Linked DNA regions of Homo sapiens: region 2 is linked to region 1. The links come from fine-mapping of genetic effects on gene expression. A gene starts in region 1. The other region holds a variant in brackets. All regions are shown on one strand. Distances are from middle to middle.

Region 1 (5,377 bases):
TTGATTATGGTGGTGGGTTCATGGGTGCACACTTATGTCAAAACTTATCAAATTGTACACTTAAAAATTATGCAGTGAACTGTATGTAAATTATATGCAATAAAGCTATCCTTAGAAACTCTGTGGAATCCTCTTGTCACTAGTAATCTCTAATTTTGTGTTAAATAGATTTTAAATGTTCTTTTCTCCAGTCTCCGATAAAGAAATGGAAAAGAAAATGCTTCACTCAGGAAAGAGTGTCATATGTATGGGACCTTATGGCTTTGTAACTTACCTTATGAGGAGCTGGGAACAGAATCCCTGCCCATCCAAAACCCTCAGCCTTCTCACTGCCACTGGAGGTAAAAAAACAAAAACAAACAACAGCAAAACCAAAAATCAGAAAGCAAAAAAACCAAATCAAAGGGCCAAAAAACAGGTGAGAGCAAAACTCAAAAAAACTGGGAACAGATGATTGCTTGAACCTTTTGTTTTTGCAGCCTCAAGTGTCTCGGTTGGATATGGAGGTAAAGAATGAAAATGTTAAGCCATCTTTCAATCACATTTGGTAACTCCTGTCAGGAATACTGTATTACAGAAAAGAAAAGCCTCTACAAGCAGAAATGCTAAAATCTAGCATAATAAGGTGTCACCTCATAAGGCAGGCAAGACTTTGACAATAAAACAAAGCTGGACACGAAATTTGATCAGAAATTCAAAACCTGAGTCAATTTCACAGAAAATTCAGAAGATAAAATAGTTTTATTCATAGCCTAGGTAAAGTTCAGAAATTTATATTGCACTTTGGCGGTTATGCTGATCCTGTGTTTGGATGGGGTCACAATAGCAGGGAAGGCCGAGGCTTCCTACAGAAGGTCCTTTGTGGCAAATCACTATGAGAGGAAACTCCATCAAAAGTCGCCAATTGTTCATTTCATTTCTACTGTGCTACGGAAGCCTGGTTTTGTTTTAAGGGCTAACGTCCTAGGTTTTAAGCAATTTTTTTTGAGCTTTGGCTACCCAGCTAACAAGCAGTAGAATAGTCAACTCAAAACTACGTCTGATGCCAAAGCTCTAACTCTAAAACTCAATATAGAGTTTTTTTTCTGTGACACCTCCCCTCGTGTCTCCCCTAACTGCGACTCGCATTAACTCGCTGCTGGTTCCCAGCTGGAGAGCACAGATTGCACCTGCTCCGAAGCCCAGCGGGGCTCAGTGTCGTCCGCAGCTCAACCTCGGCTGCCTGTGCACGGACATCGGGACCCACCAGGGGTCACTGCAGCTTCAGAGCTATTGTGCCCCTCAGTCCTGGACGCGGCCGACCGCGCGGAGGGCGTGGGATTGGGACCGCCGAACCGTGGGGTCCGAGCAGCACCGCGTCCTCTTCTCCCCACCCAGCCTCCAGGTCTCTCGGGGGAAGGACGCAGCGAGCGCTGGACTGCCCCGCGGCTTGGGCGCAGTGTGCGGCTTGGCAGCGTGGACTCGCCGGCACCTCGCCGCTGGGACCACGGTCTCTGCCCCGCCCTCCGCCCCCAGCTGATACCCCGCCCAGAAGGGGCTCCCCTGCCGCGGCCAGCGCTGGACTGGGGGGTCCGCTTCGTTCCAGGGCTTTTTGCAGACGCCTGGACCGGGCCCACATGCACCTGGGCTGCTCCCGCCCGGGGCGCCACCACTCGCGCGGCCAAGAGAACTTTCCCCGGAGCCTCTGCGGCCTGGCGCGCCCAGGGCGCACCCCCCGCTCGCCCGTCCGCCGCGTTCCCAGCTGGGGCGTCGCTCCTCCGCCCGCAGGTCCCCGCCTCCCCGCTTTGCTGAATGTCCTGAAGAAGCCGTATTCCGCCGCCGCGGCAGGCATTCCCGGAGGGAGAGCTTGAACTTGGCTACACACGGCCACCCGTAATGAGCTCGGGAGTCCCCGGACGGGAGCCACACCCCGCGACGAGCTGACCTCCCCTCGCTGGTCTGGGTAAGGAGCCTGCTGCCCTTTCCGCCTCTCTTCCGGCTCCTCGGCGCTTGCGGCTGGGGGACGGGGTAGCGGACGGAGCGACGACCTTCGCCTCTGCCCCTGCGCCCATGGTCGGGGCGTCGTGGGTGCTCCTCACACAAAAGAAAAGCCGAGCGCTTCATACTCGGCGGATCTGACCCGGGGCTGCGGGGCGGGGTCGCGGCTGGAAGTGCGCGCCCGCGGGGGACTCCGCAGGCCGATCGGACGCCAGGACGTCGGGGCCGCGCTCAAATCCGTGCGGCAGGAGGGAGGTGCAGCGCTTCCAGGGTTTTCCAAGGCCGGGGAGAGCCTCGAATTCCCATCACTCCTTTTTCTGGTCTCTTGCCCCCAGTGCCAGGAGACTTTTGTCGTCCCCAGGACTGCGGGAGGGGCCCCGCGCCCCCGCCTTCGGAGGAGCTCGAGCCGCAGGATGCGCGGGGACGCGCCACCGCCCTCCGCGCCCAGTTCCGCCGGCGCTTCCCCGGCGGCTCCCGGGCGCTGACTCTCCCGGGCTTTTCCGCCTTTCTCGCTCCCGCCCCGCCGGGCGGTTCGGCGGCCGGTCCCCGGACCCCGCCGGGAGCTGCTCGTCTCACCCTCGCCACGGCGCGGACAATAAATTAATGCATCGCGCTTGAGTGGAGGGGGCGGCTGGGCGCCTCGGTGGTAGCTTTCTCTCCTGGCTGGAGACGACCACAACCGACATGGGCTGTTTCTGCGCTGTTCCGGAAGAATTTTACTGCGAAGTTTTGCTCCTGGATGAATCCAAGTTAACCCTTACCACCCAGCAGCAGGGCATCAAGGTGGGTGCGGCCCGGAGCGCGTTCCGGGGGTTGGCGGCAGGGCGGGTGCGGGGGTCCATCGCTTTGAGGGCTGTCACCGGTGGGTCGAGGGCGGCGGCCGCGACTCTGCGCGGTGGGGAGGAGAGGCCGCTGTCCCCTGCGCGCAGGGAGAGGGTGGACGTACCAGGGTGAGTTAACTTTGAGTTCCTTCATAAAGCAAAGTTGAGTTTGACGTTTCTAAGTTTACTCAGCACACCGGCTCCCAGCAGCACCCCAAAACTCTTCCCCAAACCGGTTTTCTCCAAAAGCCTCTGGGTGCCCCGCAGCTCTCAAAGAGGGGCAGAATGGGTTATACCAGCTGCGTCCCACCAGTGTGGAAGGCATGGTTTCCCTCGACTTTGTTGAAGGCGTTTTCCTTGACAGTGTTATTAGGGAAGTGAACTAGTTCACTCGTTGAAACGCATTAATGGGTCATTGTGATTGTTTTGCGTGGGTTCGTAGTTGGGTAATGCTACGTTTGGACGGAAAATATTTTCCCTTTCTACAGCGACCTGGGTTTATCCTCACATTTAAGTAAACATCTCTCAAAGCGACCCAGTAATAACTTTGCTCCTGTTTGTGGGTCATTAAAATGCAATCACTACATTAACCTAGAGAGCCCAAACAAAAAGGCAGCAGAGCTCGCAGAGATCCTCTTCCTTACATTGGATGAGAAGGTACGTATGTTTGTAGTGACAACCTGACCGACGCGCCTGCGTGCTTGTTTTGCTTTTGCAACAGTGTTAACTACCTAAAGGAGATCTAAATCCGGAGCGTTTTGTTGTTTTGTTTATCTTTCTCTTTCAGTTTTAGATCGCTAAGGCATTTTAGATAAGGCAACAGCTGAGTCTGGTGAAGGGAAACCGCCCCCCCGCCCCCGCTCTGATAGAGCTGGCTTTCTGAGAAATCGAGTTCAGGCTGCCAAGTATCCTCTCTTAGTCGCTTCATCTCAGAAGTTAATCATAATGGGGTAGGCCCTGGGCATTTCCTTTTGTGAATCAGTTTTTACATAGTTTTATGCACACTAGGATAACTATTCCTGGCTAAAAGTTTCAGCGTTAATGTTGCCATTCTTAGTGTACAGAATTCCAGTTTCATAGGTGTAATTCTTTTGCGGGAGAAAGGAGCAAAAATAATCAGTTAAAGCTACAAGATTGTTAACCCTTTCCTTTAGGAGGTTGTTTTGAATATTGTTTCCCCAGTAATTATACTGAGCAAAATTCAGTTCGATTCTCATTCGGTATTTCCTTTCAAGACCAATAAAATAGACTCTTTTCGGGGAGGGTGTACATTTTGTATTTTTAACTTTTCTTTATGTTCCAAAATATTTCTCCTCTCACCCGCCCAATGAAATCAGGAAAATATTGTAACTTACAAGATGATGTAACATTCTTTGGTGTACTGTATGAATAAAATAGGCAAAAATCACAAAAACATCCTAAATTGTAGATAATATATAGATTCTTGTGTCGAGATAGAAACAATTAGAAAAAGGTAACTGATGATCAGATACTAAGACAGTAAAGAAATCTTTTTGAAGTGCAAAGTCTAAATTATCTGGAGTCTAAAGTCATCTGGAATGTGAGCTTCCTATTTAATCATCAAAGTCATGCCTATCAGCTGTAGAGCGTGTACATTATTCTGTCAAGAGAGCAGCCAGGACTTGGGATCAAATGGAATAATTTTGTCAAAGAAACATGAATCAAAAATCCTGATCCATAATTATTTTTTATAATCCAGTGGTGCTTATCTTGTTTTACAAATGGGCTGAAAATTGGTGAGTGATTCAAAGGCAACAGCAACTATGTAATACTGTTACTTTGGATATGGGCCATATAACTAAACAATAATTTAAGCAGGCTGTTGTTGGAAATAATCATTTAACAACAGGCTTGGCCTCTGTCCTTGTCACAAAAGCATGCCACAATTATTTTGATGGCCATGTGTGTAACACAGATGTTGTCTGCTAAAGCTAATCACATTATCTTCTATGCTACCTTAAAAGTGTATGTGTTAAACACCTACCCACCCTTGGCGTGTACTAAATTAAATATATTTGCATATTTATAAATGGTGTGTATAAAAAAACTTGCATGTAGAGGTATTCAAACATTGGATGAACATGTTTATGTTCTGTACATACTTGACATTTTAAAAAACTTTTTCCTAACCTTCCTGTATTATGGTGCATAGGTACAATTGATGTGTGTTGCATTAATTACTTAAAATTAACTCCTACTTTAGTTTGTAAATGAAAAAGTAAACAGTTACTTCAAAGTTAATAGCCAGTAGCTACCATTATGGTGTTTTTCCTTGAGATAGTATACTTAGTAATTTTGATTACCACTAATTAAAGTCAAAATTAAGCAGGCAACATCAATTAGCCTACTGTTCTCTGAAATTAACTAGAAAAATCTCTATTTTTCAAAAGCATTTCCTAACATTTATTTTGTGATTATCCTTTTTCCTATTCTATCTTAGATGAAGATGGCTAATTTTACATTAAAATTATGCACACATTTCATCTCTTAGTAGAAATAATTTTACTGATTCCTAAATGGTTACTTGAGAATTTGCTTGTATTATTGTTACAGTAATG
Region 2 (5,377 bases), 42 kb after region 1:
GGCTTTGTTGTGGGATACAAGACTTTATTTTGTAATGAAGGGATTTTAGATGTTCAGCCTATGTGGGGAAAATTTTGGGGACTTCTAATTGTTTTATAGGTTTAGTACATAAAAGGAAGCGTTTAAAAAACTTGCAGTTATTAATTTTAAGCAAAAATTCTAAATGGGGGGACATGTATATGCTTTTCTGCCTTCATTGATGCCCACTGAAAGCCAGTGGGCTAGCTTGACCCCCCCAGGGTGCTCGCCTCTTGGAATGAGTATCCACTGAGAGAATGCACTGATTTGATATTAGCTCAGTGTGTTCCACCACCTTTGTAAAGGTGTTTGTGTATGTGCACATCTGTACACCCCTGCACGCTCATAGACACCTGCATATAACTAATTCACAGGAGAGTGGACATGGACTGCTGGAGAACACATCACAGTGGAATGGCTTCCAAATTCAGCCCTTGATACAAAAATAGTGTGGGTTAGAACTAGACTTAAGCCATTTAGAAAGGTTCCACTATGGAGGCCACCCTACCAGCCATTCAAACAGCCCATGTTTCCTCCTTCCTGGAATAACGACTGTATGTTCAGTTGAGCATCCAGTGAAGAAGTTTGTTTTAGAGGACATGCACAAAAAATGTACTTGAACTAGAAGAAGACTCAGTGTTTCTAAGTGCATTTCAGGAAAGCATCAGGGAAACTGAGGGAATAAGGATGACTTCTGGAGTTTCCCTGTCTTCTCCACAGCCCTCCACCCCAGTGGATCTACCTTAATTTGCATGAGTTAAATGATTGTGTGATGTCTTCTCTGTGTTACAAATTTTGTTGTTAATTTATCGAGGAAACAATGTCTGGGAAACTTTCTCTATATTTCTTATGGCTGTTAATCTGTATTGTTAAGATATAATTTATATCCTGATCATCCTGAATTTTTTGCTTTTTAAGATTATATCAACTATGGAACTCCTGAATTCTGACGGATAGAAAAGATTTATAAATTAAAGGGTAGATTACAGGGCTAGAGAAACTACTCTCTGCTCTAGGTAACTTGCATTCTTAGGAGTGACTAAAATTTTGCAAGCTATATAGACCAATTCCTACAATCATGAGAGGAACAGACATAATTTTTACCAAGATAGGATGCAGATGGTAGTGTGGCCTGACAGAGGCTGGGAAATACCAGGAGTATCAGGATAGATTGTGAATTTTCCATCTCTGGAGAGCTTTCAATTTAGGATAGATTTTCATCTTTTTATGTTGAAATAAATTTCTCCGTGCAGATGGAAACATGAATCCTTATATCTGTTTTAAGGACTGTACTTTGTAGGTAGAAAACCAAGGTTGCATCTTATTTTGTTTTTGGACCTGGTGTTTATGCATTCAGAGTTGTCCAAATATGAATTAAGTCACAGGTGGATTCTTCTTGTCCTAGATATGCTGTAGAGTAGTATCCTTTTTTGTTCCCCCTGAGAACTGGGTTTGTTGTAATGTAAAAGATGGGGGGTTAGCAGTGTGATTTTTTTTTTCTCTTCCCAATTTGTGTGAAGATTAAGTTAGTTTCTGGAAGGCAGCTCTGGAAAGGTAATGGTACTGGGAAGAGAGGGGTTTGAGTTATTTTAGCACCTTTCTCTGAAGAGGTGCAAGAGAACAAAGAGAGTAGCAGCAGAGAAAGTGGTCCACTCCAGGCTGTGGTGTTTTCTAGGTTTGATAGTTAATATTATGTTGAGGGTCGCCATGGGAATAATTGGTCTTGGCAAAACTACAGGATGCCCCCTTTTTATTGAATAAAATTGGTTGAGTTGCTGGGCCTCATGAATCATGGATGAAATGGTAGAGCTGAAAATGGCCAGTAAATGAAAATCTGGAGCACACTTAAAGGTCACTTCCAAGTACTTGCTGTTTGCTGCAGTCAGGGTTCAGTGGGCCAGTAACCTTTCATTTCTTTTAAATTAAACTTTCTATTTTGAGATAATTCACATGCCATTTTAAGAAACCATACAGAGAGATCCTGTGTCCCTTTGCCCAGTTTCCCTCAATGGTAACTTCTTACAAAACTGTATTTACTATCACAAGTAGGATATTGATAATCGATATATTCAAGGTACAGAGCATTTCCATTATCTCAAAGATTCCACATATTGTCTTTTTTTTTTTTTTTTCAAACAAACAGACAACAGTATCTTGCTCTGTCACCCAGGCTGAAGTACAGTGGCATGATCATGATTCATTGCAGCCTTGACCCCCACGGCTTGAGTGATCTTCTCATCTCAGCCTCCTGAGGAGCTGGGACCACAGGTGTGTGACACAGTGCCTGGCTAATTTTTTTTATGTTTTATAGAGACGGGGTCTCCCTGTGTTGCCTAGGTTGGTCTTCAACTCCTGGGTTCAAGTGATCCTCCTGCTTCAGCCTCCCAAAGTGCTGGGATTAGAGGAATGAGCCACCGCACCCAGCCACGTGTTGCACTTTTATAGACGTACTCTCTTCCTTGCCTCTTTCACCTCTTAAACTCTGGCAACCAAGAATCTATTCTCTGTTTCTATAATTTTATTTCAAGAATGTCATATCAATGGAATCATACCTTTTGGGTTGCTTTTTAACTTATCATAGTTCCACGGTTGGTTCCATGTGTCAGCAGTTCCAGGGTTTGTAGCACGTGTCAACAGTTTGTTCCTTTTTTATTGATGAGTAATGTTCCATGGTATGGATGTACTAACACTTAACCATGCACCTGCTGAAGGATGTGTGGGTTGTTTATCATTTTGACTTTATGAATAAAGCTGCTGTGATCACTCATGTACAGGTTTTATGTTTAAAAATAAAATTTCATTTCTCTGAGCTAAATACCAAAGAGAGCAAAAGCTGGGTTATATGGCAGTTGTGTGTTTAATTTCTTAAGAAACCGCCAAACTGTTTTCCAAAGTGGCGATACCATTTTACGGTCCCACCAGCAATGTATGAGTTACCCAATTTCTTTGTGTCCTTGGCAGAATTTGGTGGCGTCACTATTTAAAAAAATTTTTAGCCATCCTGTTAGATATATAGTGATATTTCATTGTGGTTTTAATTTCATTTCCCTAATGGCTAATTATGTGGAACATCTTTTTATGTGCTTAATTGCCATCTGTATCCTCTTTGGTGAAGTGTCATATATCCTCTTATGTGTTTTGCTGATGTTCTAAATGTATTATTTTTCTGCTGTTGAGTTTTGCGAGTTCTTTACATATTCTAGATGTTAGTCCTCT[C/G]TTTGGATATGTAGTTTGAAAACTTTCTCTGAGTAGCTTGTCTTTTTAATCCTCTTCCTAGGGTTTTTGCTTAGCAGCAGTTATTAAGTTTTATGAAATCCAGTGTATTGGTTTTTGTTTTTATTTATGCTTTCGGTATTATTAAAGCCAACCCCTGGGGACAGTTATCTTGCCTCTTTTTCATACCCTAACCCCTTGGAGGCACAGACATTGTCAGTCATTCACTCCCCAGGGATGTTGCTCCTCTCTAAGGATTCTTGTCTTTGGCTCATGACCACTCTAATTCGTGAAGTCAGTTTAGATCCATCAATCCAAAGGCAAATTACAGTGAACATCTACCAGCAGATCATCGTCATTGCAATGTACAGTGTAATTAGGGTCCATGAGCTCCCACCACCAAAACAAACTTCCCAACCTTCACCAGCCCAGACCTACACAGTCCTGGCTGGGCCAGCAGTGCAACTACCTCAAGGGCCTGAGGAGCATAATGGCATTTCTCTTAGTTCATTTAGCATGTTTATGACTGATCATTGAAGAATTTTTGTTTTATGAATTTTTTATCATGGCTGCATTAAAAGCTTTATCAGATAATTCTAACATCTCTGCCATCTTGGTGTTGGAATCTGTTGCCTTTTCTCATTCAGTATGGATTTTCCTGGTTCTTGGTGTGATTTTTTTCATTGAAACCAGAACATTTTTTGCATTGTGTTTGAGACTCTGGATCTCATGTAAACTTTCTGTTTTAGGTAGCTTTTTTTTTTAAATAGAGGAAGGGGTGTGTGTGTGTGTGTGTGTATGTGTGTGTGTGCGAGAGAGAGAGAGACTGACCTTGTTATGGTCTGTGGGTCAGTGTCTTCAAGATAGTTAGGTTTAGGAAGGGACAACGTGATCATCCCCAGGGGTTGACTCTGGTGTTCCTGCACCACTCTGGGCTCACTCTGGGACCGTAGTGTTTCTTTTGGATCCTCTGAGCAAGTAAGTCTCAACTCTGTCCTTTAAAGTCACCCAGTGGAGCTAAAAGTAGCAACGACAAAACAGAATGGTTTCTTCCTGCACTAGGAGATTCTGATCCTGCTGATCTGGGGTGGAGATTAGGCACTGGTATTCATAAAAAGCCTTCCAGGTGATTGTTACGTGTAGCTGGAGTTCAGAGCTGCTGCTCTGCAGACAAAGAGAACCTGAATGTTGAACATCACCTTGTGGTTTTTAAAAAACGTAGAAGTTTGCTGTCAAACTCAGAGTTTTCTACATCCATTCTAGGTGATGGTGGGGAAATGTGAAAGGCCACAGGATAGACTTGGCCCCTCTTTTAGTAGTGACAGTCTTGCCTGAGAAAAATAATGTTTTAAATTACCTTCTGACCCCTTCCCCAGGCAAAAATCAAAACCGATCTTTTATAGAATAGAATGTAAAATTTGCATGCACTTTTAAAGAAGGAAAATAAAACCCAAACCAGGTATGATTCTTGAGAAAGCACACGTTTGTGGTGAGCTCCAGCACTAGGAGTGTGCGTTCACAGAGTTCTTTTGCTGGGGTAACTTTGGAACTGTATTAAGATGCACCATGAAGACCTGGAAGGCAAAATATTGCTGAGTAATATTTATAACTCTTATTGTTATGTAACCTAGGTGATTGGGCCAGAGTGTTTTATAGTGCGAATCATTTTTATTTAGAAGACTTTAACTTCTTTTCATCATCTTTAACTGTCAACGTATTTATTCCCCTGACTATAGATATTTCTTATAATGCTGCTTTTTGCTCTTCTTTTTGATCTACAGCTTTGGGTGATCCCATGGCTCTGAATTCTAAACTTCTGTTCATTCTTAGAAGATTAATCCAGGAAACTGTTGGGTAATGAGAACATTCTCAGCCTTTTTGTTTCCACTCCCAATCACTGTCAGCATAGATGAACTCCTTTCTTCATGGCTACGGTTTGTAATATCAGCTTAATAGTCTTGTTGGGGACCTGAGTTATTCCATGGGGATGCCTCTGACATTTGAAGAATGCTATTTATTTCTAAACTGAGCACTCATTCCACACTAATAATTCTCTTTGTGGGAAGTTCTCACAGAAGATGGGTGCTTCCTACCCTGCAGGGTTACATTCTGACAGAACTGACAAGTGTATACATGAGTTGCTCTC

What was found. PIP is the estimated chance that this variant, and not a neighbour inherited with it, causes the effect.
Region 2: its variant is fine-mapped to the expression of EPB41L4A in whole blood (TOPMed, PIP 0.97).

The regions. Positions count from the first base shown.
Region 1 is chr5:112,416,324-112,421,700 of GRCh38, reverse strand. EPB41L4A (erythrocyte membrane protein band 4.1 like 4A) reads left to right here and starts at 2,424. Exons shown (of 23, transcript NM_022140.5): 1 at 2,424-2,760. The coding sequence starts at 2,662. EPB41L4A-DT (EPB41L4A divergent transcript) reads right to left here and starts at 2,118. Exons shown (of 1, transcript NR_027706.1): 1 at 723-2,118. RefSeq lists a silencer at 1,670-1,759.
Region 2 is chr5:112,373,989-112,379,365 of GRCh38, reverse strand. The region is part of intron 1 of EPB41L4A (erythrocyte membrane protein band 4.1 like 4A); the gene reads left to right. Among named protein-coding and RNA genes, the nearest start is that of EPB41L4A, 43 kb to the left of the region's middle. The variant C/G (reference allele first, on the strand shown) is at 3,235.